Linked DNA regions of Homo sapiens: regions 1, 3 and 4 are each linked to region 2. Evidence: fine-mapped expression QTL. A gene starts in region 2. Each other region holds a variant in brackets. All regions are shown on one strand. Distances are from middle to middle. Region 1 has its middle 32 kb from the start of LIRIL2R. Region 2 holds the start of LIRIL2R (lincRNA regulator of IL2RA). Region 3 has its middle 24 kb from the start of LIRIL2R. Region 4 has its middle 21 kb from the start of LINC03066.

Region 1 (7,659 bases), 32 kb after region 2:
TCAGTTTATTTGTAATTTTAGTATTTGTATTAATACAAGGGAGAAATGTTTAAGTCTGTCTATGCCATATATGCCTCTGGCTTATTGCCCAATTAATTGTAGCCTCAGGCTAAACTTTGGTTTCTGTTTTTATTTTTTTCAGGACAAATATAACTGATCTCAAAACATCTGCTTTTATTGTAGGGGCTTGTGCTGCCATCTCCATTCCTCTCTCTTTTCTTGCAATCTGGGTGGAAGTTCTTTAATATGAACATTTCAACCACCTTCATTCTACCATGTCCACTATCAGCACATTCAAGCTTATCCAGCCAAGGCTGTCATCTTAGGCCAGGGATTTTTTAGGAATCTATTTTGCTGTGATGCAGCTGGTACCCCTTTGATTCACTTTATCACTCCAGGGTTTTTTTTCATTTTAGGAGCCCAAGAAGGCAGAAAAAGAAGTAGGTGAGCAATTAAACCCTCTGAGTAGGAGCGTCTCCCCTTGCGTTAAACAATGTTGTAGAACATCGTATTTAGTAAGCTCCTAGCAGATGAGCCACGTGGCTGCTGTGCACACACGCCTGCTTGCTGCTGTGAGCTCAGACACCATCATTAGTCTTTTGCATCTCTGGAGGGAATTATAAGGACCACTTAATAACCTGTGAATCATAGAGAGTTAAAGGTGTTTCCCCAAAACACTGATGACAGAATGAAAGGTGAGGAGTGTTAGCCACAGGTCAAAAGTGCAAGAAAGTCTCTCAATGTGGGTTGTTGAAGAAATGCAGGTCTTTTTTCTTTTGGAAGTCTCCCTAGAATGGGGTCAAGGACTCTGCCCATTCTAGGATGAAAAACTGGGATATTAGACACCCTCAGTTATTTATTCCAAGCCTTCATTTTGGGCTCTTAATTAGTTTATTCAACCATCACAATCTCAAATGCTAGCAAAGCTGAGAACTCAGTTTTGAAATTTACTCTTGGGTCCCCTCAGCCAAGAGTGGGTCTGTTCAGTCAGTTGGGAGCTTAGGATTTCATTTTCATTTATCATTGCTAATGGGAAAGAGTACGCTGTCTTCATGGCAGCTGAATTTGCAAGAAACTCCTTGGATGGGGTTAATGGCAGCTGTATTTTTCTGGGAGCTCTGCTTTAACTGGATAAAGTAAGTTCTGCTAAGATTTCTTCCTTTATCTTCAGTATCTCAAATGCTTTCATTTAAATAATCTTTATAACAACTTTTGATGTCTGAGTGGATTCCCACACAGTCATCTATTGTAAGACTTTCTGATTCCTTTTTTTTCCTTTGTTCATTATGAATAAGGCTTCTGTAAATAATTGCATGGTAGCTTTTGTTTGGAAATAGCATCAAAGTAGTTGTCAAAATACTTAGGAATGTGATTTTTGGATTGTAAGGTGAAACTTGTTTAGCTTTGGAAAAAAGTGCCCAACTTGTAATAGGGGAGGAAAAATAATTTTCTATGTTTTTGGAATTCTGAGATGGGACCCTCTGTAAAAACTGACAGATTAAAATGAGAAAAACAGAAAAGTTTAAAAACATGTATACCTTATGGATACATGGGAGATACTCAGGGCAAAATGAGTAAATCTCCAACAGGTGGCTTTCAATTCAAGCATAAATACTATGTTGAACTTAAAGAAAGAAGATTTGAGGTGCAGTAGTGGGGAGTTAGCCAGCAAAAGCACAGTAGACAAGGGTAAGGTTTGTTATACAGACTTAAGTCCATGCAGTCTCCATTGATAAGACTCTTTAGTGATTTAGTTATCCTTCTCTTCTTGGTGTTGAGAGAGGTAGCTTTTGAATGGGGATTTCCTTTATAGATGTAAATTTCCCTTACACAAGGGTAACTTCTACTCTGTTTTCAGAACTTCCTTTGTTAGCATTTTTTTTTTTCAAAATAATCAGCTTGGAATAATTCTTAAGCAAAAGGGACATATTTTGGGGTGGCATATTCTGGTTTCCTACCATTATATTTTGGGGTGGCATATTTTGGTCTTATACACTGTGTTCCACCGGCAATGAAAAGAGTTCTTGTTTTTCCTCCAGCAATTTGTCATTTTTTAAAGAGTTTAGCAGTTCTAAGAGATGCAGACCAGCTGTGCTATCTCATTGTGGTTTTCAGTTCTCTAGCATGTTGAGCATGTTTTTGTATGTTTACCTGCCATCTGTAGATCTTCCTTGGTAAGATGTCTGTTGAGATCTGTGTGCCTTTTTAATTGGGCTGTTTAACTTATTGTTTAGTTTTAAGAATTTTTAAATATATTTTGAATACAAATTCTCAGATCTGTATTTTGCAAATATTTTCTTCAATATGTGGCTTGTCTTTTTGTTATCTTAACAAGGTCTTCTCCAGAGTATAAACTTTAAATATTAAGAAATCCACATTGTCATTTCTTCTGTGTATATCAACCTTTTGTGTCATTTGTTAAAATTCATTACCAAACCCAAAGGCACATAGCTTTTCTTCTATAGATTCTTCTAGAAATGGTATAGTTTTGCATTTTTAGTGTAAGGATGATTTTGAGTGATTATTTGTGTAAGTTGTAAAGTTTTCATCTACATGCATATCATTTCCTATGGTTTCCAATTAATCCTTCCATCACTATTTTTGGGAAACACACAGGATAGTGGGCTCTGTTAGAGGAGATAGATAGCTAGACATGAACAGGAGGGGGAGCTCCTGGAAAAGGGAAAGTCTGAGAAGGCTCACCTGGAGGGACCACCAAAAATGCACATATTAGTAGCATCTCTAGTGCTGGAGTGGATGGGCACTTGTCAGTTGTGGGTAGGAGTGCGAAGAGGTACCTATGCAGAAAGAAAAACCCTAGAACTCTCTTTAAGATGCCCCAACCATCATTCACTCTGCAATAAAAATGTCAGAATATTGGTAGCTACATGCTGATAAGAAGGACAAAGGGGACATTCTTAAGAGAAACCTGGCACCCTAAGTGCAGATTAGGGCAAAGAAGGACATTCAAAAGAGATAGGCAGGCACACTGGGTACAAACGTGACCGCTGTCAGCCTGCCTGGGATGGCGGGAAGGAGGCTGGTGCCAGAGTGGATTCGGATTGATCACCACACATGTACCTCAACCAACAGTGAGGAGGTCCCACAAGCCTAAGTGTGGCAAGTCGGGGACCTAAGGCAGTAGCAGGAAAACCAGACAAAGAGAACAGGTGGAGACTTGAGACAGAGGCAGGAATGTGAAGAAGTCCAAAATAAAATTCCCTGCACAGGACTCCTAGGATGTTTTCATGCACGATCAGCCCACTCCTCCCTATTTTTCTACAATGAGCTCTTTACACTGTATTTCTTTTCAATGAAGTTGTCTCCCATTTTTGTACTGCCTCTTGGTGAAAATCTTTCTTCCAAGTTAGACAAGAACTGGGACATCAGCTCTCCCTAGTACTAGCTCCGTTTCAGTTGAATTTACAGAACTGATGGGGCTTAAAAACTGATGCTCTGACTTTAAGTGGTGCAGGAGGCAGCCAGTAGGGGACGCCAACCGTCACACTGGGAGCAAGAGAGCCCTGCCTAGTCCCCATCTGCCTGCAGGTGGCGTGCTGCCTCGACACTGCCACCAAGAGGGCCAGGCAGTGTCTCCAGCTGCCAGCAGGTGGCGTACGACGACTACACTGTGAGCAACAGGGCCCTGCAGTGTCCTTAGCTGCCAGCAGGTGTCATACGGGCACCACACCATGAGCAAGAGGACCCCGCAGTGCCCTGGTTGCCAACAGGGGGCGTGCTGCCACTACACTGTGAGCGAGAGGTTCCTGTAGTGCCCCCAGGGGCCAGAAGAGGGCGTGCCCCCACTGCACTGCAAGCAAGAGGGCCCGGCAGTGTCCCCAGCTGCCAGCAGGGGGGTGTGCTGCCACCACACTGTGAGCAAGAGGACCCTGCAATGTCCCTAGCTGCCACCAGGCGGCGTGCAGCCGCTATACTGTGAGCAA[G/TG]AGGGCCCTGCATTGCCCCGGCGCCAGCAGGGGGCGCTGGCCACCACTATAAGCAACAGAGCCCTGCAGCTGCCCTAGTCGCCAGCAGGGGGCGCACTGGCACAGCACCGTGACCAAGCGGGTCCTGTAGTGCCCAGCTGCAAGCAGGGGGCGGTCGAGCCCGGCTTTTCGAATTACTGAGGTTCCACCCGTCTCCGCGCCTGCACCGCGCCCCACCCCCAGCACAGGGGCGTGCGACTGTGCTCCTGCACCACGCCACCCCAACCCCCGCCCGGCGGCGTGCTCTCTGCGCATCCACCGCGCCTCCCGCGCGCACGTCGCGTCAGTCTGTGCGTGCCCGCGCCGGCGCGGGGTGCCTTTGCGGGGGCAGAGCTGCGTTCTGCTTAACACAGACCCGGGGGACACCAAAAACGCGGAGCAGCTTTCTCAGCACACACCTTGGGGGCACGGCCTCGCTTTGGGACAACTCAGGGCAGCATCGACGGTGAACAAAATCCTTTCTGTTTGCAGCCCTGAATAATCAGGGTTAGGGTTAGGGTTAGGGGTTAGGGTAGGGTTAGGGTTAGGATTAGGGGTTAGGGTTAGGGTTAGGGTTAGGGTTTAGGGTTAGGGTTAGGGTTAGGGTTAGGGTTAGGGTTATTGGTTAGGGTTAGGGTTAGGGGTTAGGGTTAGGAGTTAGGGTTAGGGGTTAGGGTTAGGGTTCAGGTTCGGGGTTCGGGTTGGGGTTGGGTTTGGGGTTAGGGTTAGGGTTAGGTTTTGGGGTTAGGGTTAGGGTTTGGAGTTAGGGGTTAGGGTTAGGGGTTACCGTTAGGGTTAGTGTAGGGGTTAGGGGTTAGGCTTAGTGGTTAGGGTTAGGGTTAGGCTTAGGGTTAGATTACAATTTCTAACCTGTTTTATTTTGTTTTTTTTCTGAGACAGGGTCTCCCTCTTTTGTCCAAGGCTGGAGTGTGGTAGTGCTATCACAGCTGACTGCAGCCTCAACCTTCCAGGCTGAAGCGATCCTCCCATCTCAATCTCCTACGTGGCTGAGACTACAGGTGCTTGCCACTATGCCCAACTAACATTTGGAATTTTCGTATACGTGGATTCTAGAGGGGTGACAGCGAAACGTGAGTAAGCATGGATTTTGGTATATGCAGAGATGGGGGGCTGGAACTAATTCTGTATACTGAGGGATGACGACTGTATATGTTTTTACAATTACGCTGTAGGATACATACTGTTGCATAGCCTTGAAAATAATAATTTTTAATTGAGTGGAATAATAATAATATTGATAAAAGTAGCAGCTGGCCAGGTGTGGTGGCTCACACTGGTAATCGCAACACTTTGGGAGGCTGAGGCAGGAGGATGGCTTGAGGCCAAGAGTTTGCGATAGGCCTTGGAAACAAAGGGAGTCACCATCCCTATAGAAAAATACATGAATTAGCCTAGTGTGGTGGCATGTTCCTGTAGTCCCAGCTACTTGGGAGGCTGAGGTGGGAGGATCACTTGAGCCCAGGGAGGCTGAGACTGCAGTGAGTCATGATCAGGCCTCTGCACTCCAGCCTGGGTGACAGAGTGAGACCCTGTCTCTAAACAACAAAAAAGTAGCAGCTAACATCAACTGACCTTTTACCGGGTGCCTATGGATACCATAGTTTAATTTCTTATAACTGTTTCTTATTTTACTTACCAACTCTGTCTTCAGTTACTCCCAGATTTTTACTGTGTGTGTACAGATGACCTTTTGGAGGAGCCTCAACAGGCACAGCTCCTCCCTCATAGTGGCCCATTTAGGCCCAACTCATGACTGTCGGGCTATTTCCAGGCCTAGTGTCTGCCTCGTGGCTGACTGTTGAAGCCCAAAACTTCCTCAAATCAGCCTTTTGCCCAACTTCTGTCTACTGTCGGACTCTACAGGCCAGCCTCTGCCTCACAGTGGACCCTCCAGACCCAGATGGTGTCTCACTGTGGCATCCTCAGGCGAAGCTCCTGCCTTTTGGCAGCCTCTCCGGGCCCAGCTCCTCCTGCCTCCCAGTGGCCTCTTTCGGCCCAGCCCAGCTCATGGCTCTCGGCGGCCTTCCCAGGCCCCGCTTTTGACTTTTGGCAGCCTCTTCAGGCGCAGAACTTGATCTCCAGTCGGCCTTTGCAGGCCCGGCCTCCTGCCTCTCGAAGGCCTGCACGGGCCTGGCCTCGGCCTTGGCCTCACAGCGGACTCTCCACGCCCAGCTAGCTCTCGCCTCACTGAGGCCTCCCCAGTCCAAAGCTCCTGCCTTTCGGCCACTTCGGCAGGTCCAGCTCCTGCCTGCCAGTGGCCTCTTTAGGCCCAGCTCATTCCTCACGTCGGCCATTCCAGGCCCCGTTTTTCCCTTCCGGCAGCCTCTTGGCCTCTAATTTGTTTATCTTTTGTGTATAAATCCCAAAATATTGAATTTTGGAATATTTCCACCATTATATATTTTGGTAGGTAATTTATTTGGAGTGAGTTTCTGCCCATGCCCGAATTTTTTATTTTATTTTCCTTATTATTTGGTGTTAAACAGGTTTAATGACGGTCATGGCAACTTTTTGGCACAATGAAAAATATCGCCCATGATCAACGTGTTCTGTTCTGGGGAAGGGGGCAAAGGCAGGGTGAATCACTTTCTTAAAAAGTATAGCTCAAGTTGGGAGTGCAGAGGGAATGGGGAGAAAACCCTCCCGCTGCCTGTGTCGAAGTGCAGGAGCCCCCACCCCCATACTCACCTGAGTCCAGCCCCTCTGGGGAAAGAAGGGGTGCATGAACTCCCCCTAGTCCACAGGCGCCTCCCTGTGGCCCAAGGCCCTCTTCACACTCCATCTTGTAGCCCCAGCAGGAGCTATTTTCCGAAAAGTGAAAAGCTCTGAAGGTCCCACAATTCATGGTATGTACAGGGGCTCGGAGGAGGGAAATTGCCCAGCTTTCCCCCGGCACAGCTGCAGGGTTAGGGGGTATAGATAAGAGGAGCAGGCCTTGGCCAGGCGTGGTGGCTCACGCCTGTAATCCCAGCACTTTGGGAGGGGGAGGCAGGCAGATCACGACGTCAGGAGATCGAAATCAGCCTGGCCAAGATGATGAAGCCCCGTCTGTACTAAAAATACAAAAATTAGCCGGACGTGGTAGCGTCTACCTGTAATCCTAGCTACCCGGAAGGCTGAGGCAGGAGAATGGCGTGAACCCGGCGGGAAGAGGTTGCAGTGAGCCAAGATCGCACCACTGCACTCCAGCCTGGGCGACAGAGCAAGACTCGGTCTCAAAAAAAAAAAAAAAAAAAAAAAGAGGAAGGCCTTACTCCGTCCCAAACTGAAAGGATTAAATGGCTTCACCTGGGAGAAGATAACCATCCTGCCCTCCATTGCTACCCCCACATACTGTCCATGTTCTCAGGGGGTACTGTGAGTCCTGGGATCTTTGGGGTTGCCCACCTGCCTGTGGTAGTTATGGAGACCCCCAGGTGTTGAGGCAGGGCTGGGGTGTCCCCTTCCAACCAGGCTGTCAAGGCCCCAACTCTGGGGCAGAGGCAGTGGCAGGGCAGCCAGGTTTGTGCCAGAGCCTGAGCAGGTTGAGGTGGGGTCAGGCAGGGCTGGGAGTCAGGGCAGGGGCAGCAGCAGTGGACCCGCTATGCACACATCTTCTTCTCCAAGGTTTGTGTGCAGAACATCCTGCCCATGCTGACCCAGCAGCTTCAGTTGGCACCTGCCCCAGTCCAGCCTC
Region 2 (7,659 bases):
CAGGTAGCTCCAGGACAACTGTGCCAGCAGCTGCTCTACAGTCTCCTCCAGGATCTCCATCTACTGAGCCCACCTGGAAGCTGCAGGGTGGAGCTCTAGTGTCCAACCAGGTCCATCTCCCAGAGTGCTCGGCAGGGCAGAGGAGCATGGGCAGCAGTCTGGAAGAGCAAAAGAAATCGGGCACAAAATTCCTAAGGAGACAGTAAGTTTGCCAAAGGGCACAGACACGTCCTAAATTCATAGCTTGCTAGAGTTAAGAGCATTAACAACAATAAAAATGCTCCTTGCCTGTAAATGGGATAATCATAGAATGACTAAATGAGGTCAAGTCACTCCAGGACCATGAAAACAGAAAAGAGCACTAGAAGAGGTTGAACTTCATGGGTGGGTGGCAGACAGTGCATGGGCTACACCGAGGTACTTTCCCCACTGGTACTGTCCCTAATTCACCTTGCCTGATGGCCTAGACTCAATGTTAGCAGCTGCCATGCTGGCCCACCTGGGGAAGGCCACAGAGGGTTCGTGAAGCAGCCTGCTGTGCTCTACTTAATCCTCCCATGACCTTTACCTGTTCCTCTTATCTTGCAGTTTTTGGAAGCATCTTTTTCTCTGGGGCTTTGTGATGGCCAATAAGGAGGCCTGAGTCTCCCCAGAAGTTGCCCAGCACCTACTTGCCCAGCCCGCACTCCAGCTGTGGGTCAACTGGGAAGGAACAAAAACAAGACAAGGGGCTCCCTTCTGCTCCCACTCCCAGAGAATGAATCCCCCAGCTGCCTGCCCGCTCCTCTTTAACTGAGTCTTCAGATGAGGTGAAGCGGTGGGGTCTTCAGATTATCCTGTCCTGGGAGCAGAAAGTTGAGTTGCAGAAGGAGGCCTCGTGTTTGAGGAGCTGGGGAACATTTCCTCCTTCATTGATAGGTTCCTCCTGTCTCAGGCCTGAAGCACATCTGAACGCAGAGGCAGGAGAACGGGCAAGGGAGAAATAGGTATGGCTCCGGGTGGGAGGAGGGCCCGGCATCAAAGGATCAAAGCCCCCACTTAGCATCACAGTTTGCCTGTGCACGTTTCTGTGAATTAGGCAAGCAAGAGATATATTATTACAGCATTCCCTAAACTCCATTTCAATCATACCCAATTTCAAAAGGTGACTAACAGGTGAGGTGGGATGGCAGAAAGATCCCCGAGTCACAAGCACCTGGAATCCCCAGGCTGGCGCTTTCTGAATCATTTAGTTGGATGAGATCTTAGAAAACCTTGCCTCACCCTTTCTGGAAGGCCATCATCACTTCCAGTGAAGCAAACCTGTTGCCTTCCAAAGCATCAACAGCTCTTATTGTTAGAAAATGCCACCTGAAATTTAGCTGAAACAGTCTAATGGAGTGCTCAATTCCAAATGAACTTCTCTACCTCATTAAGTAGAATAAGAAAATTGTAAGCCTCAGACATCTTGAATTTAGTCTTTGTCAAAATTACGGTGAGGCTTGATCCCTCAAACTTCAGTAGCAGGAGACTTAGAGGGCCCAGTTGCTGCTGACATTGTTAAGCACTGAACTGATATTAGCATTTGCTTAGAAAGACAAGAGAATACCCACATATCCAATACGTTTTAAGTAAAAATCTATACTTCTTTTGTATGTTGTCATTTAAAATAATGAATTTATCAGCTTAATTAGATAGAGCAAAAGTTTTTATGTAATTTGGAAAGTTTGGGTTAATTGTCCCACCTCGAGAACGTGGATGTTTATCACAGGAAATATTTGTCAGAGTGTTTGTTGTAGAAATCCGTGATGCTCACTTCAAGCTATAATCTGTGTTTGCCACAGAGGTTTGTTCTAATTCCCCAACCTTGCCACGACTGACCTGGGTCATCACCATGTGCTTATTGAAGAGCCTTGGAATACTGTATAGACCCGTACAGAGTTGTTCAAATAGGTAAGCACTTTCCTTCTGGTGAATTTTTTTTTTTTTTTTTTTTTGAGATGGAGTTTCACTCTTGTTGCCCAGGCTGGAGTGCAATGGTGAGATCTTGGCTCACTGCAACCTCCGCCTCCCAGGTTCAAGCGATTCTCTTGCCTCAGCCTCCGGAGTAGCTGGGATTACAGGCACCTGCCTCCACGCCCGGCTAATTTTGTATTTTTAGTAGAGATGGGGTTTTCTCCATGTTGGTCAGGCTGGTCTTGAACTCCCAACCTCAGGTGATCTGCCTGCCTCGGCCTCACAAAGTGCTGGGATTACAGGTGTGAGCCAACGCGCCAGGCCGAAAATATTTTATAATAAAGTGACTGTTGTAGATCAACTTTATAATACAATGCGGATTCTCAATTCTTATAACAAAGACTAATGTACATAAATTTCAGTATGTTTTAAAATTAGCCAGTACTTAGTAGAAAGCCCATATAGTTTACTGTAGCACTTCTGCACTTATAGTTTAGGTCTATCTAGATGTATGACTTCTCAGATGCTGCCGAATATTGACCTTTTGCATGGTATTCAGTCTTTGAATTTTTATTTCATAATATGCTGGAACCACGATATTCTATCTGATCAGCAACTGGTCTGGTATCTGGGGCTCATAATTTTCTTTTTCCGCTTCATATTTCAGACAATTGAGGACGACTATAATAGTTTCTCATTAGAAATACATGCTAATAAACATCATGTCTTTGGTATTAAGTGGCAATTAGATGAAACAACCTGAAATTCTGTCTGATACCAAGATTGAACTTTGCTGAGATTACTGTTTCACTCACCGAAAATATCAGAATACTCAAGGGAGTTATTTTTTTTCTTAATGTAACTTTCATAAAGGAAATGAAAGAAATGTGGAGACTGAAAACAGTTGTCTGGTGTCTCAATACTGCATGCAGGTTCAACTACATTCTAAGCAAGTTGACTGTTATAATACATTTCACATTTTCTGTGATTTTGTTTGTGCTGAGACCTTATGCAATTACAAAGCAGATTTTTTACACTAACCTACACTGAGAAAAGAAAACCACCGTTCCCCTTTTAAACAGGAGAGTGCCTCAAGTACACTCGGGATCCCTCTCACCAAGCACAGCAAGGCTTGTGACTTCAAGCACACCAAGCTTGTGACTTTTTCTCCTACAAGGTGCACCTCGTTTTTTCTTACTGACAAATTGGCTTTAAAGTAAAGTTAGTTCCCTATCACACTGGCCCCCAAGACTCCAACTCCTGCTTCTCTTGGGATCTCTGCCCAGAGTCCAATCTCCCCTAAGGCGTGGTGCAGTGCTGTGCCCACACCTAGGCTCTGGGGGTGGGCACCCTTTGACTTTCCTCATATCATTCCACCCTCGACACATCCAAATGTGAACACATCTTCTCCACAAAGTGCCCCTTCACCACGCCAGTTCCCAGACACTTTATTTCTTCCCTTGCCTAGAGTGCTGCCCCCAAAACCAGCCCCCCATCATTGGCCATGTCCTTGCAGAGGCTGAACCATCCCACAATCTGTCAAGGATATCAGGGAAGAGCATGAGCTGGATAGACTTCAGGCTCTGCCAGCAGCTACATTCTAGGGGTGCCCGGACGTCCTGGTCTCTTGAGATGAGATGGTCTTGTGTCTGGAATTGGTCTCACTGACTAAAAGAATAAAGCCGCAGACCTTCACAGTGAGTGTGACAGTTTTTAAAGATGGTGTGTCTGGAGCTAGTTCCTTCAGATGTTTGGACGTGTTCAGTTTCTTTCTGCTGGTGGGTTTGTGGTCTCGCTTGCTTCAGGAGTGGCTGCAGACCTTTGTAGTGAGTGTCACGAGCTCTTAAGGTGGTGCGCCTGGAGTTTCTCATTCCTCCCAGTGGGTTTGCCATCTCACTGCCTTTAAGGAGGGAAGCTGCAAAGCTTCGCGCAGTACGACAGTTTCCAAACATGATGCAAGCACAGCTTACCACGGTTGCCTCCGCAGCCCGCTTTTATTCCCTTATCTGACCCCACCCACATCCTGCTGATTGGCCCATTTTACAGAGAGCTGATTGGTCCGTTTTGACAGGGTGCTGATTGGTGCATTTAGGAATCTTGAGCTAGACACAGAGTGCTGATTGGTGCATTTACAATCCTTTAGCTAGACACAAAAGTTCTCCAAGTCCCCACTAGATTAGACACAGAGCACTGATTGGTGCGTTTACAAACCTTTAGCTAGACACAGAGTGCTGATTGGTGTTATAATCCTGTAGCTAGACATAAAAGTTCTCCAAGTCCCCACCAGACTCAGGAGCCCAGCTGGCTTTGCCTAGTGGATCCTGCGCTGGGGCCGTGGGCAGAGTTGCCCGCCAGTCCCACACTGCACACCCACACCACGCACCAGCACTCCTCAGCCCTTAAGCATCGATAGGACTGTGTGCTGTGGAGCAGGGGGCGGCACCCCTTGGGCAGGCTCAGGCTGCTCAGAAACCCACGGCGGCTGGGGGGAGGCTCAGGCATGGTGGGCTGCAGGTCCCGAGCCCTGCCCCGTGGGGAGGCAGCTAAGGCCCAGTGAGAAATTGAGCGCAGCACCGGTGGGCCGGCACTGCTCGGGGAGCCAGAGCACCCTCCACAGCTGCTGGCCCGGGTGCTAAGCCCCTCACTGTCTGGGGCTGGTGGGGCCGGCCAGCCAGCTCTGAGTGTGGGGCCCACCAAGCCCACGCCCACCCGCCAAGCCCACGCCCACCCGGAACTCTAGCTAGATCACAAGTGCCATGCGCAGCCCCAGTTCCTGCCCCTGCCTCTCCCTCCACACCTCCCCGCAAGCTGAGGGAGCCGGCTCCTGCCTCGGCCAGCCCAGAGAAGGGCTCCCACGGTGCAGCGCTGGGCTGACGGGCTGCTCAAGCACAGCCAGAATGGGCGCCGAGGCCGAGGAGGCACCGAGAGCGAGTGAGGGCTGCCAGCACTCTGTCACCTCTCACTACCGCACTCTGTCCTACCCTCCCATGCCCCTCCAGCACCCTGATCCTACCTGCACCCCGCTCCTACTGAGAGGTGAAGCCCGGCTGGGCTTCTGGGTTGGGTGGGGACTTGGAGAACTTTTCCCTCTAGCCAAATGTTTGTAAATGCACCAATCAGCAGACTGTAAAAACGCACCAATCAGCACTCTGTGTCTAGCTAAAGGTTTGTAAGTGCACCAATCAGCACTCTGTAAAAATGCACCAATCAGTGCTCTGTGTCTAGCTAAAGGTTTGTAAATGCACCAATCAGCACTCTGTAAAAACGCACCAATCAGCTCTCTGTAAAATGGACCAATCAGCAGGACATGGGCAGGGCCAAATAAGGGAAAAGCTGGCCATGCGAGCCAGCAGTGGCAACCTGCTTGGGTACCCCTCGATGCTGCAGAGGCTTTGTTCTTTCACTCTTCACAGTGAATCTTGCTGCTGCTCACTTTTTGGGTCCGCACCACCTTGAAGAACTGTAACACTCACTGCGAAGGTCTGCGGCTTCTATTCTGAAGTCAGCCAGACCATGAACCCACCAGGAGGAACAAACAACTCTGGACGCCCCACCTTGATAGAGCTGTTAACACTCACTGCGAAGGTCTGCAGCTTTACTCCTGTGAAGTCAGCAAGATCACGAACCCACCAGAAGGAAAAGACTCTGGACACATCTGAACATCTGACGGAACAAACTCCAGACACACCATCTTTAAGAACAGTAACACTAACCGCGAGGGTCTGCGGCTTCATTCTTGAAGTCTGCGAGACCAAGAACCCACCAAAAAGAACCAATTCCGGACACACTACCTGCTTTCGACCTCACAGCACCTAGCTCCTACCTGGACCTTTCTCCTACCTGTGCTTGTCCCAGCAGCACCCGGCTGCTATCCGCCCTGCAGCACCCTATCCTACCCATGCTTGCCCCACTAGAACCCCAATCTTACCCACACTCTGCTCCTTTCAGTGCCCTGCCCTGCCAGCACCCCATCCTACACATGCCTGGCCCAGCAGTCACCCTACTCCACCTGAGCCCCGCCCCTACTCGCACCCCGCTCCTATCCATGGCTCACCACTGCAGCACCAGCCACTACCCAAACCTCGCTCCTACCCACGCCCAGCCCTGCCAGCACCCCATGCTACCCACGGCCCACTCCAACAGCACCTCAATATTACGCATACCCTGATCCTACCCACACCTCACTTCTACCCGTGCCCTGCCCCACCAGCACCCCACTCCTAGTGTGTCCGGAATTGGTTCCTTTTGGTGCGTTCTTGGTCTCGCTGACTTCAAGAATGAAGCTATTGACCCTTGCGGTGAGTGTTACAGTTCTTAAAGATGGTGTGTCCAGAGTTTATTCCTTCAGATGTTCAGATGTGTCCAGAGTCTCTTCCTTCCAGTGGGTTTATGGTCTTGCTGACTTCAGGAGTGAAGCCGCAGACCTTCGCAGTGAGTGTTACAGCTCTTAAAGGTGGAGTGTCTGGAGTTGTTTGTTCCTCCTGGTGGTTTCGTGGTCTCGCTGACTTCAGGAATGAAGCCACAGACCCTCGCAGTGACAGCTCTTAAAGGTGGTGCGCGTCTGGAGTTTTTGTTCCTCCTGGTGGGTTTAATTTAATTTTTAAAATTGCTCTTATATGGCTGGGTGATGTGGCTCACGCCTGCAATCCCAGCACTTGGGGAGGCTGAGACGGGTGGATCACTTGAGGCCAGGAGTTCGAGACCAGCCTGGCCAACATGGTGAAACCTTGTCTCTACTAAAAATACAAAAATTAGCCGGGCGTGGTGGTGGGTGCCTGTAATCCCAGCTACTTGGGAGGCTGAGGCAGGAGAATCACTTGAGCCTGGGAGGCGAAAGTTGTGGTGGGCCGAGCTGCAACCACTGCACTCCATTATAGGTGACAGAGTGAGACTCTTTTTCAAAACAAAAAAAAAAGGACAAAAAATTGTAGTTCTAGAATAAATAGGTGAGTTAAAAAGGTGTTATCTGTGTTACTTAAAAACGAGGCTTCCTTTTTTTTTTTTTTTTTTTTTGAGACGAAGTCTTGCTCTGTCGCCCAGGCTGGAGTGCAGTGGCCCGATCTTGGCTCACTGCAACCTCTGCCTCCCAGGTTCCAGTGATTCTCCTGCCTCAGCCTCCTGAGTAGATGGGACTACAGGTGCACGCCATCATGCCTGGCTAATTTTTGTATTTTTAGTAGAGATGGGGTTTCACCATATTGGCCAGGCTGGTCTCGAACTCCCGACCTTGTGATCTGCCTGCCTTGGCTACCCAAAGTGCTGAGATTACAGGTGTGAGCCACTGTGCCCGGCCGACTTCCTTATATTTTAACCCACTAAACAATGAGGAGGAATTGTTCTCATTAAGTACAAGGGCACTGGATCCTCAGGACCCTGACTTCATAAGAGAAACAGCAGCATATCCTGAAAGTTTCTGACACTTCCTGCTCACAGGCACCAAAGCTATATGTGTAAACTTATCCACTTCTTGCCAAAGGAACCCTCCCCTGGGAAGATGAAGCTTCTTGGACGTGACCACCTCCAGGAACCAACGGGCGGGCAACCTTTATGCATGTGTGACCAGACCTCCAACTATAAGCATGGTGTGCAGTACAGAAGAGCCTGCTATGAAACTGAAATTGATGGGACATTTTATAGGAATTGATAGAGATGTTGGTCCTCAAAAGCTTTAAATCTGTGATCTGCAAAATAAAATGTGTTGGAAACCTCTGAACAAAATTTTTT
Region 3 (7,659 bases), 24 kb after region 2:
GTATGTTGTTCTCTTTGTAGCAACCGTGAATGGGAGTTCACTCATGATTTGGCTCTCTGCTTGTCTGTTATTGGTGTATAGGAATGCTTGTGATTTTTGCACCTTGAGTTTCTATCCTGAGACTTTGCTGATGTTGCTTATTAGCTTAAGGAGATTTTAGACGGAGACGATGGGGTTTTCTTTTCTTTTTTTTTTTTTTTTTGAGACGGAGTCTCACTCTGTCACCCAGGCTGGAGTGCAGTGGCGCGATCTCGGCTCACTGCAAGCTCTGCCTCCTGGGTTCATGCCATTCTCCTGCCTCAGTCTCCGGAGTAGCTGGCACCACAGGCTCCCGCCACCGCGACCAGCTAATTTTTTGTATTTTTAGTAGAGATGGGGTTTCACCGTGTTAGCCAAGATGGTCTCCAACTCCTGACCTTGTGATCCACCCGCCTCGGCCTCCCAAAGTGCTGGGATTACAGGCATGAGCCACCGTGCCCAGCTGAGACAATGAGGTTTTCTAAATATACAATCATGTCCTCTGCAAGCAGAGACAATTTGACTTCCTCTTTCCATATTCGAATTCAATTTATTTCTTTCTCTTGCCTCATTGCCCTGGCCAGAACTTCCAATACTATGTTGAATAGGAGTGGTAAGAGAGGGCATCCTTGTCTTGTGCTGGTTTTCAAAGGGAATGCTTCCAGTTTTTGCCCATTCAGTATGATATTGGCTATGAGTTTGTCATAAATAGCTCTTGTTATTTTGAGATACATTCCATCAATACCTAGTTTATTGAGAGGTTTCAGCATGAAGGGCTGTTGAATTTTGTCGAAGGCCTTTTCTGCATCTATTGAGAAAATCATGTGGTTTTTGTCTTTGGTTCTGTTTATGTGATGGATTACATTTATTGATTTGCATATGTTGAACCAGCCTTGCATCCCAGGGATGAAGCTGACTTGATCATGGTGGATAAGCTTTCTGATGTGCTGCTGGACTCAGTTTGCCAGTATTTTGTTGAGGATTTTTGCATCGATGTTCATCAGAGATATTGGCCTGAAATTTTATTTCTTTGTTGTGTCTCTGCCAGGTTTTGGTATCAGGATGATGCTGGCCTCATAAAATGAGTTAGGGAGGATTCCCTCTTTTTCTATTTTTTGGAATAGTTTCAGAAGGAGTGGTACCAGCTCCTCTTTGTACCTCTGGTAGAATTTGGCTGTGAATCCATCTGGTCCTGGACTTTTTTTGGTTGGTAGGCTATTAATTGTAGCCTCAATTTCACAACTTGTTATTGGTTTATTCAGGGATTTGACTTCCTCCTGGTTTAGACTTGGGAGGGTGTATGTGTCCAGTAATTTATCTGTTTCTTCTAGATTTTCTAGTTTATTTGCATACATGTGTTTATAGTATTCTCTGATGATAGTTTGTATTTCTGTGGGATCAGTGGTGATATCGCCTATATCCTTTTTTATTGCATCTATTTGATTCTTCTCTCTTTTCTTCTTTATTAGTCTGGCTATCAGTCTATTTTGTTGATCTTTTCAAAAAACCAGCTCCTGCATTCATTGATTTTTTTTTGAAGGGTTTTTTGTGTCTCTATCACCTTCAGTTCTGCTCTGATCTTGCCACCAGCCCACCTCGCATCATCGTTTACATGGAAATGTTGGGACTGAGGTGACCTCATGCCTCTCAGTTCCCAGCCAGCTTTCTCTCCCTCTGGCTCTTAGCCAGCCTGTTAAACAGAAAATAATCAGACAAATAAAAAACACCCTAGTGTTCTAGCAAGTTACACATAATTGCTTGCTTACCAATTGTCTACCTCAGAACTTTCTTTTCCTCATAGGGTCAATATAATCATCTATTTTAAATTTGGCTTTTGCCATTTTACAGTCCAAGATGCAGGACTTTGCATAGGGCACAGATGGATTTCCATAGTCAGCATGAGGATGGGAGGAGGACAGGGCAGATCCAGACCCACTCAGTGAGAGCTCTGGCTGGAGTTACTTGGCTGGACCTCACTCCCGAGAGAGGAGACCTTCCTCTGGACCAGCTACCAAGACAGCTCCTAGTTGGAAAATGTTTTCTTCTAAGGTGAGATGCAGCCCCCACTGGACAGGAAAACACCAGACAGTTTTAAAAAGGAAAAACCAAGGTAAGCCGTGGAGCTTCTTGACGGGGGACACAGCAGAGTCCACCCAGCTGGGGTGAATCTCCACGGTTCCCCAGTGGGACGGCGTGCAGGAGTCCCAAGTCACTGACCCCTGCAGCGTGGGAGCAGCATGAGCCATCTGCAGTGACATTGTCTCCTCCGGCAGCAGCCTCCATCCAGAAATCCATCTCAGGGTCTGTCCTCACAGGAACCTGATGCCAGAGCTGTGCACTGAAAGGATTTGGACACAGGTATTTTGTGGAACTGAGCATTTTCCAGGTCTTGCTGGAGGTCATTCTGTGTGAACTTGATGGAGATCTTTCTCATGCGCTGTTTTCCTAAGTGTGGGAGAGCATGGCCTGCATGACTGCTGGCTTCCAGCACGTGGCGTGCAAACCCATGCCAGAGTGTGTAATTCACTGTAGCCCTTGACAGAATAGCAGGGGATAAAGCTTGTTTTTTAATCTTCTGTTTATTACCCTCAGCCAATTAACTTCTATCTATAGTAGAAGATATTTTGCCAAATTTTTTTTTTCAAAATGGAGAAATACCTTGCTCTTAAGGCTTTTAGAAGCACAGACTTCTCAATTTCATTACATTAAAATCACTAAAAGATAGAAAAAAGTGAAATTCACATATCAAAAGAAATTCTCTTTTGTCATAATACTCTATTTTCATTTGAAATGTTTGTGAATTTTCCATGCATGTGTCCAGATGCATAGGGAGTTTATTCAGTCAATTAAGTTAAAACATTAGATAACATGGTAAATTCAAAAAGTAGTGAAGACACATTTTGTTTCTGTCTCTTTAACTGAGAAAACTGGTTGATGCCTCCTGTGTGCGAGCACCGTGTAGCTGATGCAGATACAGAAACCGAGGTTTTCTTACTTGCTGCCACTGGCCCTGGCACTGGAGGTTGGCTCTGGGAGGGCAGGGTATCTGTTTTTATTACCACTCAGCAAGTGCCACACAAATATACACGGGTGTCTCTGCCCTCTAGTGGATCCTGGCAGGCACTGGGAGCAAATGTGACTAAAAAAAGTGAAAGATTTAAAAAATACCCATTATCTCCAGAGGGGATTTAATTCTAACAGGGGACTTTTTTTTTTTTCTTTTTCAAATGGGCTGATGGGTAAAAATAATGCAAGACTGGAGATGTTGGAAAAAAGCACACTGCATTTGCCTTTCAGCATCTGTGATGACTGAGTCCTTCCTCAGCGCTGCCACAGGGAGCACATTCACATGTGTGTCACACACATACCAGGGTTAGGTCAGAAGACCAAGTGTTACCTGGAGGAAGCCACAAAGGCTATGAGACCAAGCCTTCACCTGGAAGACACTTGATAGTTCAGAAGCCGAGATCCTGCGAGGTGTCTCAGAGAGCTCAGCTGTGACCCTGCACTGTATGGAAGGGCAGGCAGTGGGGCCCAGGCAGGTGAAGAGGATTGTCCACTGTTGAGCATCATCAGCCTAAAACCCACATGCAATGCTATTGCTGCAAAACCGCTGACTGTTGAAGCCACAAACCACAGAAACAGACTACCTTTATGGTCCTCACTGTGCAACTGGTGACTTTTCAGAAGATGAAGATTAAACATATTAATCATAAATTCAAAGCATCAGAAGAAATACTAGGAGGTTTTCTAACCTCTGCTACCATGACTTTTCTTTTTGGCAAGATTTGTGAATTATTGTAAATAAGCTCACAGAGGCCAAAGTGCTCCCCTGAGTCATCCAGAAAGAGGCAGGCTGCTAATCCCCACATCTGAGACATCTGTGTTTTCTTAGGATAATAAAAAATTAAAGATAAGGGAAAGAGAGAAGGACAGAAAGAGACAGAGAGACAGAGAGACAGAGAATTGGAGCTAAGAGGAAACATTTTCAGGTTTTGCCCCCCAGAATTCCCAGTGAACAGTCCCATTGCCAGCGGGTGAAATCCCATGCCCTGGCTCCAGGATCCTGCTCTTTCGTTTGGTGACTCCTGTGCAGATTTGGCACTGAAACAATATGGAACTTGTTACACTTCTCTGGACAAGTCATTTTGCTTTCGGCTCACAGGCTCCACTTCCCTGGACACCCCTTCACCCTAAGCTTCAAGTAATTCAGCTTCACCCTTCAGAGAAGAGCTCAGGTGTCACTTCCTCTAAGGACCTCCCCAGCTGCCTCTCCAGCAGAAGGGCCCCCACCTTGCCCTTTGCACATCTGTCCCTCAAGGTGCTGCTGTCCTCTGTGGAGGGTGGGATCCCGGGAACTAGAGCCCCTCTCCTGCTGGAGACACTCGGCACTCAGAAAGTGTGTGCTGAGCGGATACAAGTGTGGCAAGCTTGCACAGTCTTACA[A/G]TGTGTAATCTCATGTCTGAAATAGATCCCCATTTTCATTCTTGGTAAAATGAGTAAGTGGGGCTGGGTGACCCATACTCTCTTTTCAACTCAGAAGTCCACATTGAGCCTGACATCAAATAGCTTCCCAGCCAGTGCCAGGCCAGGACCTAGTTTGTTCAATGTGCCTGTGTCCCCTACAGAGTTGGAAAAGCATGGAGAAATGGGACCAGCTCTGCTGCCTGCTGCCCAGTGCCAACCAGCAACTCCAGGCTCACAAACCCAAGGCAAAGGCACCTGCAGGAGATCTTGGTTATTCATTAGCTGTGATTGGGCTGGGAGGGGAGTGTGTTCACTTCTAATTTTCCAGGGACTAGCATGAGACAGTAAAGTTTGAAATGTGGAGTTTTTTTGTCTTGGCCAAAAAAAAAAAAAAAAAAAAAAAAGACCTTTTTACCTTCTCATCCTTGGAGCCACTGGCATTAGCTATGGGCCTGATAGTTTAAGAAAACTTGAAAGTGAACTATGTGAACCAGTATTCTCCAAAGTAATATTTTGATAAATAGTGTAATTCTTTATTACAGCAAAGCCATTGCTTAAGTGGGCAAAACTCTAGAGGATAGGAAAACACACTCTTGAAAAAAGGTGGTGATGCCCTGAAATTCAGCAAACTGCAGGGACACGTGTTGTTCTACCCCAGGTCAGAATGTGTCAGTCATCACTCGATGCCACTCACAGACCACCAACTTCAGAATATCTAGGTGTAAATTTCTGTACAAAAGTCTTAACATAACAATGTAAATAATTTCACATTATGATTAATAAATTAGTATTTGTATTACACTATTACATAATATAAAAGCTATTAAAACATATTTGTCCTCAAAGAATGGCCTTGGTTTCTTTGGGCAGTGTCTCCTCATGGAAAGGTAGTGCATTCCTGCTAAGTCATGGACAAAACTGGCCTCCAGGAGCTGCAAGCTGCAGCAGCAGCTTCTCATCTACGTCCGTCACTACATGATACTGTTGTTGACTTTGAAAGCTTCTTTCAGTCTAGTTTTATCAACAGAGCTAGTATTTCATGAGGATCTACTACATACCAGGTTCCAGAAAGCTAAATGCCTTTTGCTTGTTATTACTCACTAAATACAAACCACAACTCTCTTCTCATTACTCACACAACAAAATTTAGCTGAGGGAGATTGAGTGACTTTCCCAGGGTCGCACAGTTACTAAGAGCAGAGCCGTGTTTAGATTCATGTGGGAATACTGAACGCTGAAATGAACGAGCAGAAATATCCTACGTTCCAAAAGCCTACTCAAGCCATTTGTTCTTAAGGAAAATCTTTATGCTAATTTTAAGCTCCAAATACTTATGAATGGCAGAGATCTACAGATTTCATTCTGATGTAAGAGATGATGCTCACCAGCTGGTTACTGCTACCACCCCACAACCCCGAGCATACTGGACAAATCTCTAAGCCTCGTTGTTAGTGCAGACAATGCTGGTGGAGTCTGAAGTTGTCATGCAGTGACTCACTCAAGCTTAGGCAGATTTGATGATATATGACACAGAGATGCAAAGAAATGCTGTAGCTGACACACAGAGGCTGGCTCTGGGAGATGCAGAAGGAGCATGTCACCCAAAATAAAGCCAGACAGACATCCTTAAGGAAGGAGCAAAGGGGCTGCATCTTAAAGAATGAAGAAGAGATTTGTCATGAGAGATGGGACAGGAAGTTCTTGAGAGGCAGAGGGAGAGCATGAGAATGTCGGGAAGGGAGGAGAGATTCTTGCACATCTGGGAAGCTGACAATCCATCGGCATTGTCAGAAGGAAAATAAGGAGGAGGAGTGGAAATAATAAAAGCAGGGCTGTGTGTTGATTGTGGTAAAGAGTTGTGATTCTATCCAGAAGGCAATAGGTAGCATTCTAAAGAGAGATCTTCTAAAACAAGAGTCAGCAAATATTTTCTGCAAAGGGCTAAATGTTAAATATTTCAAGTTTTCCAAGCCATGTTGTCCCTCTCTCAATGACTCAGCTCTTCCATTATACCATGAAAGTAGCCAGAGACATTGTATAACACATGTATGTGGCTGTGTCCCATTACAACTTTACTTACAAACGCAGACTGTGTCAGACCTGGCCCATGCATGGTAGTTTGCCACACCCTGTTTTAGAAAGCTCAGGTTTATGATGTGATGGAGAATGCCTACAAGAGCTCTTGTTTTAAATGGTAGAGTGAACATACACTGGAATTCTATCCTGCTTGACCCAAGCTCTTGATAGCGAAAGGTAGAAAAGATAGATGGTAAATAGATAGATAGATGATAGATAAAGAAAATACATAGCTGTTCCAGAAAACAGAAATGGATAACTTCATGAACCAAAAGCAGAGTAATATACTTTAGAAAGGGAGCAGGCTGGAAAACTCACAGTTGCAAAGCAAATAGAATTTCCAACTGCCTCTTGTAGCCCCTTCCTGGAAGTAGTCACAACCCAGGGTGTTTCGACTTCTTCCCCTGTTTTTTGTTTGTTTGCTGTTTGCTTTTTTGTGGGTTTTTGTTGTTGTTGTTTGCTTTTTTAAAAAAAATTCCCTTTCCCTGCTTTTTTGTCACAGCAGTCTTTGTCACTTCAAACACCACAAGTTTTCTTTTTCAAAAAATTATATCAACCTTTCAATTAAAATGCAACATGTCTGAAACTTGATATCTAGAGAGGTGATATGGACAAAGGAGCCCTTGTTACTGCACGTTTCTGTTCTCCAGACTTCACCTTGCACACAAGAACAGACAATGCACAAAACCACTTCCTTATGGACTGAAATTCTGAAATCCTTTTATGACTGGCGTTTCCTAACCCTTCAACTTCCCCTCTCCCATGCTGTGAATGATTGTATTGGACATTTTTGTTTTAATCTCAGTGACAGGGGAACACAGGTAGCTCTAATATAGCTGTGACCCAGATGCTTCTGTTTCTACCATGTATTTATTTTGTAGCAAACATTTACATCCATCGTTTTTCACTGTCTTTTGAAAATAATTAGGGAATATCTCATCTGAGGTAGGATGTTTCTAGTGGTTGTGTTCTGAAGGAGGAAAAACTAATCTGTTCTCTTTCCACTGCATTCCAGGAACAGTGAGAGGACCTTGTGCATGAATAATTTGTTTCCACACTACAGAGTGGGTAATAAGCAGATTAGTAAAAACAATTCTG
Region 4 (7,659 bases), 46 kb before region 2:
TCAAACATGAGACAGATTTCTCAGTTACACTCCTGATTAAGGAAATGGAAAGCAAAATACTAGTGCTGTATAACTGGCTATTTACATAGCATTGGCAATAAATGAAGCTTAATAAAACCCAGCATTGGTGAGGTTTACCAGTCTCCTGCACCACTGGTGAGAGGCTGAGTTGGACAACAATTTTGGCGGGCAATAGGTAATTCCTGTGAAAATACACTTATCCTTTTTCAGGCAACTCACTCTACAGATATTTGTTTTTAAGTACATATAAAAATAGATACATAGAGATACATAGATATCTTTCTACATATCTCTATCTATCTATCTGTCTGTCTGTCTGTCTGTCTGTCTATCTATCTATCTATCTATCTATCAACATTAATTGCATCATTAACAAGGCCAAAAAAATGAGGGGTGGGTGGGGGGCTGAGCCCTCGTATCAACAAATAGAAGAGACTGGATCGAGGTTTTGCAGCTATTAAATAGAATAAAGTGATATGAACTAAATATGCAGGTGGAAGGTTCTGCAAGTCATGTTATTAAATGAAAAAGCGTGATTCAATATCATATACATACATGCAAACATATAGACATGTGTGCACATATGTATGTATATATTTTTCTGTATTTGTATATATTACATATGTATATTTATAGTTTTATTTGGGCATCACATTGAAGGATTTGCTTTACCTCTGGATACTGGAAATAGGTTAAGGGGACAGGGTTTGAAGTGAATGAAGTTTGTCTGGATTTCCTTCTAAATCTGCACGAAGCACAAAGACTGACGTGTCAGCTTGAGGCTCCAAGGGGACAGAGTTTGAAGTGAATGAAGTTTGTCTGAAGTTCCTTCTAAATCTACACGAAGCACAAGGACTGACATGTCAGCTCGAGGCTCCAAGGGGACAGAGTTTGAAGTGAATGAAGTTTGTCTGAAGTTCCTTCTAAATGTGCACGAAGCACAAGGACTGACGTGTCAGCTCGAGGCTCCAGGGTTTGCTGCTTGGGAAGGTGGGTCCTGCTGGGCTGTGGGAAGTCCACAGGTTTCAGTTCACATGATTCGAAGCACACATTACTATAAGGGTCAGCTCTTATAGGATACCAGTTCGGGGAGTTTCAATTTGACTTAGGAGAGGGTCTAAATCTGAAGAACAAAGCCAAATAACACACACCCAGGTGAGTTTCATTGTCAAAACCATTGAAACTGGCTGAGACCCACACACCCCCACCCACTGCCTGGCTGAGCCCGGCTCCACTTTTAGACATTGCGGGGAGGGGTGCAATCCCGCCACTTAGTCCTGCCCTCCCGCCAGCCCAGGCATAGTGGAAGGAAGGCGGTCAATCTGGGCTTTCTAGAACGATGCTGAGACTCCCTGACTCTGCCGAGCACTTGTGTAATGACTGCACGCGTTGAGGACTGAGAGAAGTTACTCCTTTGACAAAATTGCATTTCCAGGAGTACATTATTTAACTTTGTTCTGGCCCCTGTCAATCTCCAAAGAAAGTACTTCTCTTCATTCTAGAAAGATGAGGAACATTTTTCCCAAGAGCAAATGAAGGCTTAGACAAAGCATGTGGTATAAGTCACTTCTGGGTGGAAAATGGATTGCCTTTGTTTTATATTGACCTATCAAATGATAAAAAAAAAACACACACACACACACACCAAAAAACCAATGTTTTTTTTTTTTTAATATAAAATTTGCTTGCTTCAAAAAGATTGAAAACTGCCAGTCGCGGTGGCTCACGCTTGTAATCCCAGCACTTTGGGAGGCCGAGGAGAGTGGATCACCTGAGGTCAGGAGTTGGAGACCAGCCTGACCAATGTAGTGAAACCCCATCTCTACTCAAAATGCAAAAATTAGCCAGGCGTGGTGGTGGGCGCCTGTAGTCCCAGCTACTCAGGAGGCTGAGACAGGAGAATTGCTTGAACCCAGGAGGCGGAGGTTGCAGTGAGCCAAGATTGTGCCACTGCACTCCAGAGCAAGACCCTGTCTCAAAAAAACAAAAAGTTTTGAAAACTACTAAGCTACTACAGCATATAATGAAGTCATGATAAATGAACATGAATCTGACATAGGGTTTAGTTGTAAAGTACATTCCATCTTAAAAAGTACCTACACGCTAGGACCTGGTGTTCCTGCCTGATTTAAATCTTTCTTTCTTGTTTCCTTTGCTCCTCATTCCCACCATTGCCTGTTTCTTCCTTCCCTCCCTCCCTCCTCGTGCTCTGATGCCTCTCTGTTGTTTTAGAACACATTCTACAACCTCGCAGTGTCAAAGGCTCACCAGCCATTCCCACCACCATCCTGCGGGGCAGCCTGATTATGTTCAGGGAACAATACAGTCGCTCTGAGGAATGGCCCAAACAGAGGCACCCACACACTCCCCTTGCCAGGGGAGAATGCCAGGAGAGACCCTGTCATCCAGTAGGATGTCTGCTGGGGCTGCCCAGAAATATTTCCCCCCCATAAGGGAGAGAGGTGCAAGAGCAGAAAGTCCTTCTCTTGCGAACCTGGAACCCCGTTGTGAAAACACATGGTGCTTTCCCAGGCAGCTGCCGCCTATGTCCATGTTAAACAGTGACTGCTCGGTAGACAGCCCAACTCTCTAGGGATGACAGAACAGAAATAACCTGGTTCTCAGTGGCCTGAGTGGCCGAAATACCTTGGGACCAGCTATCTCTGGACTTAAGTAAACTAGAAATGTCCTTGTGCTTTAAGCCAGGTTTTTGTTACTTGTAAGCAAAATATCACTTTAATCGAATGGAGAAAAGGACTGTATTGAGAAGAAAAGTTACAATTATGTCATGATAATTATGATTACAGAAGCCTGTCGAATGCTGTTTACACCAAAGATCGAATGACAGCCATGCTCCAGGGAGCTGGTGAGAATTTCCCTGAGGAGGACAGCGAGCACCGGCCTTGCAGAAAAAGCCCCACGTTAGGCAACGAGGGATGAGGCCAGTGGATGGCAGGCTTCGCATGAAATGCTAAGGAGCTGTGGTTTTTGTCTCTAGAGAACAGAGGCATGTGCCTGTGTGAGCAAGACCGCTCACACTCACGACACCCACACTCCTCCTGTGTGATGAGGACTCATGCTGGCCTTTGTCTCCATCTTCTGGGAGAGGCTCTCTAAAGCCTTACAATTTCCCAAGTGATGGGAGTGTCTCTGCTATTCATGGTGGGCCCTGATAATTTATGCTAACAGGTCACTCACGGTGGGGGCCTGCGTGGTTTCAGGACGGGTGACGGTCTTACAGGAAAGACCCACGTGTCACCAGAGGATCAGGGCTCTGAGCCTGACCTCTAGGGAAGGGAGGTGGCTGGAGATGAAGTTCAACCATCAGGCCAGTGATTCAATCAATCACGAGTATGTCATGAAACCCAAGTGGAAGCTCTGGCCCCAAAGCTTGGTGGAGCTTCCAGGTGGTGAACGCATGGATGTAGTGGGAGGGTGACCGGTCTTGAGCACATGGAAGCTCTGCCTTCCAGGCCCTCCTGGACTGTGTCCTGCTGTCTCTTCCTTTGGCTGGTCCTGAGCTGTGTCCTTTGTAATAACACTGTCATCATACATGTAGCACTTTCCGGAGTTCTGAGAGTCATTCTGGTGAATTATTGACTCTGAAGGGGTCAGGGGAACCCCTGACTTGGTCAGAAGTGCAGGTGGCCTGGGGACCCTGGAGTTTGCAGCTGGCATCTGAAGTGAGAGCATTCTTGCTGGGGATGGTGCCCTTCACCTAAAACTTTTGGCCCCAACTCAGGGCCTCAGTGTCAGAAGTCCCTGCCCTCACCTTCCATGAAAAGTCTGCATGGCCCAGGCCAGAGCTTCGGAGGCCCTGGGTCTCCAGACCCAGGAAATGGAGGGGCTTCGCTTCACCCCCAGTCCACAGACTAACTACTCTGTGAAGAATGCTAACCTTTGGTCACAAGGGAGCTGAGGATTGGGGGTGATGAGATCTGAGAAAATGGGGAGAGCTAAATCATCCTGAGTGCGGCGGCTCATTGATACTGTTGTGGTGCCTTACACAGCCAGACTGCAAATGTTCTGGCCTAAATCCACTCTTTCAGAGTAAATAGTAACACAGGCAAATAGAATCATAGCTACCATCGACTGAACTATAATGGGAAAGATGCCAAGTGAGATTTATTTTTGTTTTGCTTTTTACCTAGTGTTCCTAATGTCCTTTTCTACCAGTGACGCGCAGCTTGGTAAAGGCCTGAGTCTGGCATCTCGCTGTGAAGCGGCCCCAGGTGTCCCCAGCTCTGTCTGTTGGCTCTGCCCCACAAGCTCGCGCCCGAAGCCACAGAGACACAGGGTGGGTGGGGGTGGAAAAGTGACGCCCAGGAATCGCTGGGGCTTTGCAATGTGGATGGTAGGAGGGTGGGTTGCGCCATGTGCTCCCCCCGCCTCCCTCACCAGGTTGGTCTGTTGCGAGGCACTTTCCCCAGTTGGCTCTGTCCAGGCCCCAGGCCGCCAGC[A/G]TGGTGGGGAGCCCCTCTCTCGGCCTTGCCGTGGCTGCAGTGTGGACACACGTGCGTATTCAATCACTCTCTGCTGCCCCTAGACTCTGATAAGAAGCTGGGCGTTCAGGGTGAAGGCGTGGAATGATGAGCAGCACACAGACGGCATTTTGCTGAGCATCAGCAGGCGCTCCTCCGTCGGTTGCTTTTGCATAATAAATGTGGGGAAGATTTTTCAACCCCGTTTTCCTATGAGAAAGCTGAGCTCAAAGGCTGAGCTGCTTTGCTGAGGTCACTCAGAAACTCAGAAACTCACAAAGCAGGGGTGAGACCTCTGCTCGACAGCAAAGGCAGGCAGCGTCCCTCATCCCTGCACCACGAGGGCGTCACAGCCCCTTCCCGGGTGGCCACAGCCACAGGGCACCCTGCGCCCTCTCCGGGCCTCGCCTTCCTCTTCTGAAACAGGACGGTGATCTCATCCCCCTCACAGGCTGATGCAGAGACCTAAGGAGCACACTGGCTGTACACGGAGGAAAGCACCTCGGTTTCCTGAAGCAGTGTGGCATTCGAGTCTGATTTCCAGCAACTCCACTGCCCCCGCAGCCAGACTTTGCATGAGCAGAGTTCGCAAACCTTCTAGAATCTGGCGAGGAACAGAGGAAATCAGCTAAAGGGCGTAACAGGAAGTGGGGCCTGGACCGGGAACCTGGTTCCTCCGCTCTTTCCCTATAGGTACAGAAGGAACAGGCCCAGGAATGAGTAAGAATGTTTTTCTCTACAAATAACTCACACCCAAGCCTCAAGCAGGGTTAGGGAGTGAGGCATTGTGTCATCACCTACCACAGGAAGCCCAGAGCCAGGGCAGACTCCAGACACGGCACGCAGGGTTGTGACTCTACACACCTGGCGCCTGGGGCACTGGTGTCTTCCAGGCAGCTCTGCCAGGTGTCACATCTGGACAAGACAGAGAGGTACTATCTTCCCCTTAGGAGTGATGAACTCCTTTCCAGAAGCTTCCTGCAGGCTTCTCCTCATGCCTCACGTCTAGAATAGAGTGATCTGCATGTTCCAAGAACAGTCACTGGTTGGAGAGTTGGTATCACCGTGACTGGGTGAGCCTGATGGCTCTAAACTCTGGCTGTACATCAGAAGCACACACTGAGCTTCTGAAAAGGAGAGGCCTGGGCCCCACTTCCAGAGATTCAGTTCAATGGATCTCCTGTAGTACCTGAGCATCAGAACTTCGTAGCCCCCGAAGGTGCATGCTACGGCCAGAAAGAAACTCAGGGAAAAATGGATGTTGCAGAGACGTCGCCACAAATGAAACCCACAGCGACAGGAGAAAGCGGCTCGCGTCCCGTTGAAGAAGATGCTTCCCTGGATTACTGTGCAGAGTTGAAGCTTTACCTTTCACCTGGAGAACGCGTGGTTCTGTGACCAAAACAGTGGCAGCTCCTCCACCAGCCCCTGCTGCTCCCATCCCTTCCAGGGAAGAAACTTTTGTTTCTGTGATGCCAGCGCAGGCATTCAGAGCAAAGCCACTTCCAGGAAATTCTAAGAATGAGGTGCGGGCACCACTGGGCTGGCGCATGAGAGTCATGTGCCTCAGACTCCACGCCCCCTGCTGACCGTGCCCACAGGCTCCCAGGTTATCTGTGGCGGAGGTCAGGGTCTGCTGGGCAGGGTCAGGGATGTCTGGTTGGGCTGAAGCAGATGCAGGGGTCCTGCGGTCACCACTGCCTCCGATGAAGCTCTGAATGGTCTTCTCTGTTCTTCCATACGGTCATGTGCCACACAACAACATTTCCAACCACAGACAGCGTATACTATGGTTGTCCTGTAAGAGTATAAGGGAGCTGAAAAATTCCTATCATGTGATGACATTGTAGCCACCTCAACGTCTTAGCACAATTATATATATATACACACACACATATATATACTTTATATGTAGAGAGAGAGAGTGTGGCCTACGTGTGCAGTGTTTATAAAGTCTGCAGTAGTCATAGTGATGTCCTAGGTCTTCACATTCACTCCCGACTCACCCACTGACTCACAAGAGCAGCTGCCAGTCCTGCAAGCTCCACTCATGGTAAGTGCCTTGCACAGGTACTGTTGTTCATCTTTCGTATTGTTCTTTCACGGCACCTTTTCTCTGTTTAGATACACACACGCCACTGTGTCATAATTGCCGACAGCACTCAGCGCAGTGACATGCAGGTCTCAGCCTGGCACGACAGGCTGTCTCATATCGCCAGGTGTAAAGCAGCTCATAGCACGCGGGTGTGTGGAAGTTCACTCTGCGATGCTCACACAACAGCAAATTGCCTGAGGACCCATTTCTCAGAAGGTATCCTTGTCCTTAAGCAACACATGACTGACATTTGTAAAAGGGGCAAGAGACAGCTTGTGCTTCTCAGAAAAGGTGCCCATTTTCAACTGGTTTAGGAAATTTAGAAAGAGGGAGGAGGAGTATTAAAGTGGCTAAGAGTGTTTCTTTCCAGTTGGTTGATTCTGCACCTCACACACCTAAGGAGTCTGGGAAACATCCTGGGTAGCAGTGGTGGAGAGTGGTCGTAATTTACATTGAAATGGGGATCACCACTGCATATACAGATGGCCTTGCTAGGTGCTGAGGAAGCTCTGATGCCCCCGCGAGGATCAAACATGAGTCGTGGAGACAGGACATGGTGACATGTAGGAGAACACAGTTGAATGCCAGGTAAGCCCCACGTGGGCCTCATGGGTTCAGAGGCTTTTTTCAGAATTACTTCCAGTAGAACGGTTGCCCGTCACAGGGAGCATATCCAAGAGGGCGTGTGTGTGAAGCTGGAAAAGTGGCTTGTACTGGGAATGGGGTGTCTCATATCTCTATAGAGAGACCGCAGGGAGCTGAGGACTGAAGGAGAGGTTAGAGCAGCTCAGGCTCAAGCCCTCTTCCCCAGAATCACCAGGAACTTGCCAGGGAGGCTTTTGTTGCTGTTGTTGCAAAATCCAATTGCAATTACAACAATAAGTGAGGAATTAAACTACAAGTATGAATAGCATGGGCAGCTTAATTCTTAATAAGAAAGCCTAAGGTGCTTTCAACTAAACCACTTTCTGAAGTTTTTTTTTTACCAAAAATAAATTATATCCCAAAATTTATAAGAAAAGGTACAAGATAAAAAAGTGCCCCCTTTTAGAGCTAAAGTTGTCA

What was found. PIP is the estimated chance that this variant, and not a neighbour inherited with it, causes the effect.
Region 1: its variant is fine-mapped to the expression of LIRIL2R in prefrontal cortex (GTEx, PIP above 0.99). The same link has a PIP of 0.9 or more in hypothalamus and putamen.
Region 3: its variant is fine-mapped to the expression of LIRIL2R in whole blood (TOPMed, PIP above 0.99).
Region 4: its variant is fine-mapped to the expression of LIRIL2R in prefrontal cortex (GTEx, PIP above 0.99).

What each region holds. Positions count from the first base shown.
Region 1 is chr6:144,794-152,452 of GRCh38, reverse strand. It overlaps the pseudogene SEPTIN14P6 and the pseudogene CICP18. Among named protein-coding and RNA genes, the nearest start is that of LIRIL2R, 32 kb to the left of the region's middle. The variant G/TG (reference allele first, on the strand shown) is at 3,945.
Region 2 is chr6:176,639-184,297 of GRCh38, reverse strand. It overlaps LIRIL2R (lincRNA regulator of IL2RA), which reads right to left and starts at 3,903. Exons shown (of 2, transcript XR_926349.3): 1 at 1-3,903. LINC03066 (long intergenic non-protein coding RNA 3066) reads left to right here. Exons shown (of 8, transcript NR_126020.1): 7 at 1,824-1,932; 8 at 2,603-2,832.
Region 3 is chr6:152,809-160,467 of GRCh38, reverse strand. No RefSeq gene overlaps it. Among named protein-coding and RNA genes, the nearest start is that of LIRIL2R, 24 kb to the left of the region's middle. RefSeq lists enhancers at 4,106-4,195, 4,236-4,325. The variant A/G (reference allele first, on the strand shown) is at 4,465.
Region 4 is chr6:222,869-230,527 of GRCh38, reverse strand. No RefSeq gene overlaps it. Among named protein-coding and RNA genes, the nearest start is that of LINC03066, 21 kb to the right of the region's middle. RefSeq lists enhancers at 2,579-2,638, 2,649-2,768, 2,779-2,908, 3,469-3,528, 4,824-4,873 and 1 more. The variant A/G (reference allele first, on the strand shown) is at 4,482.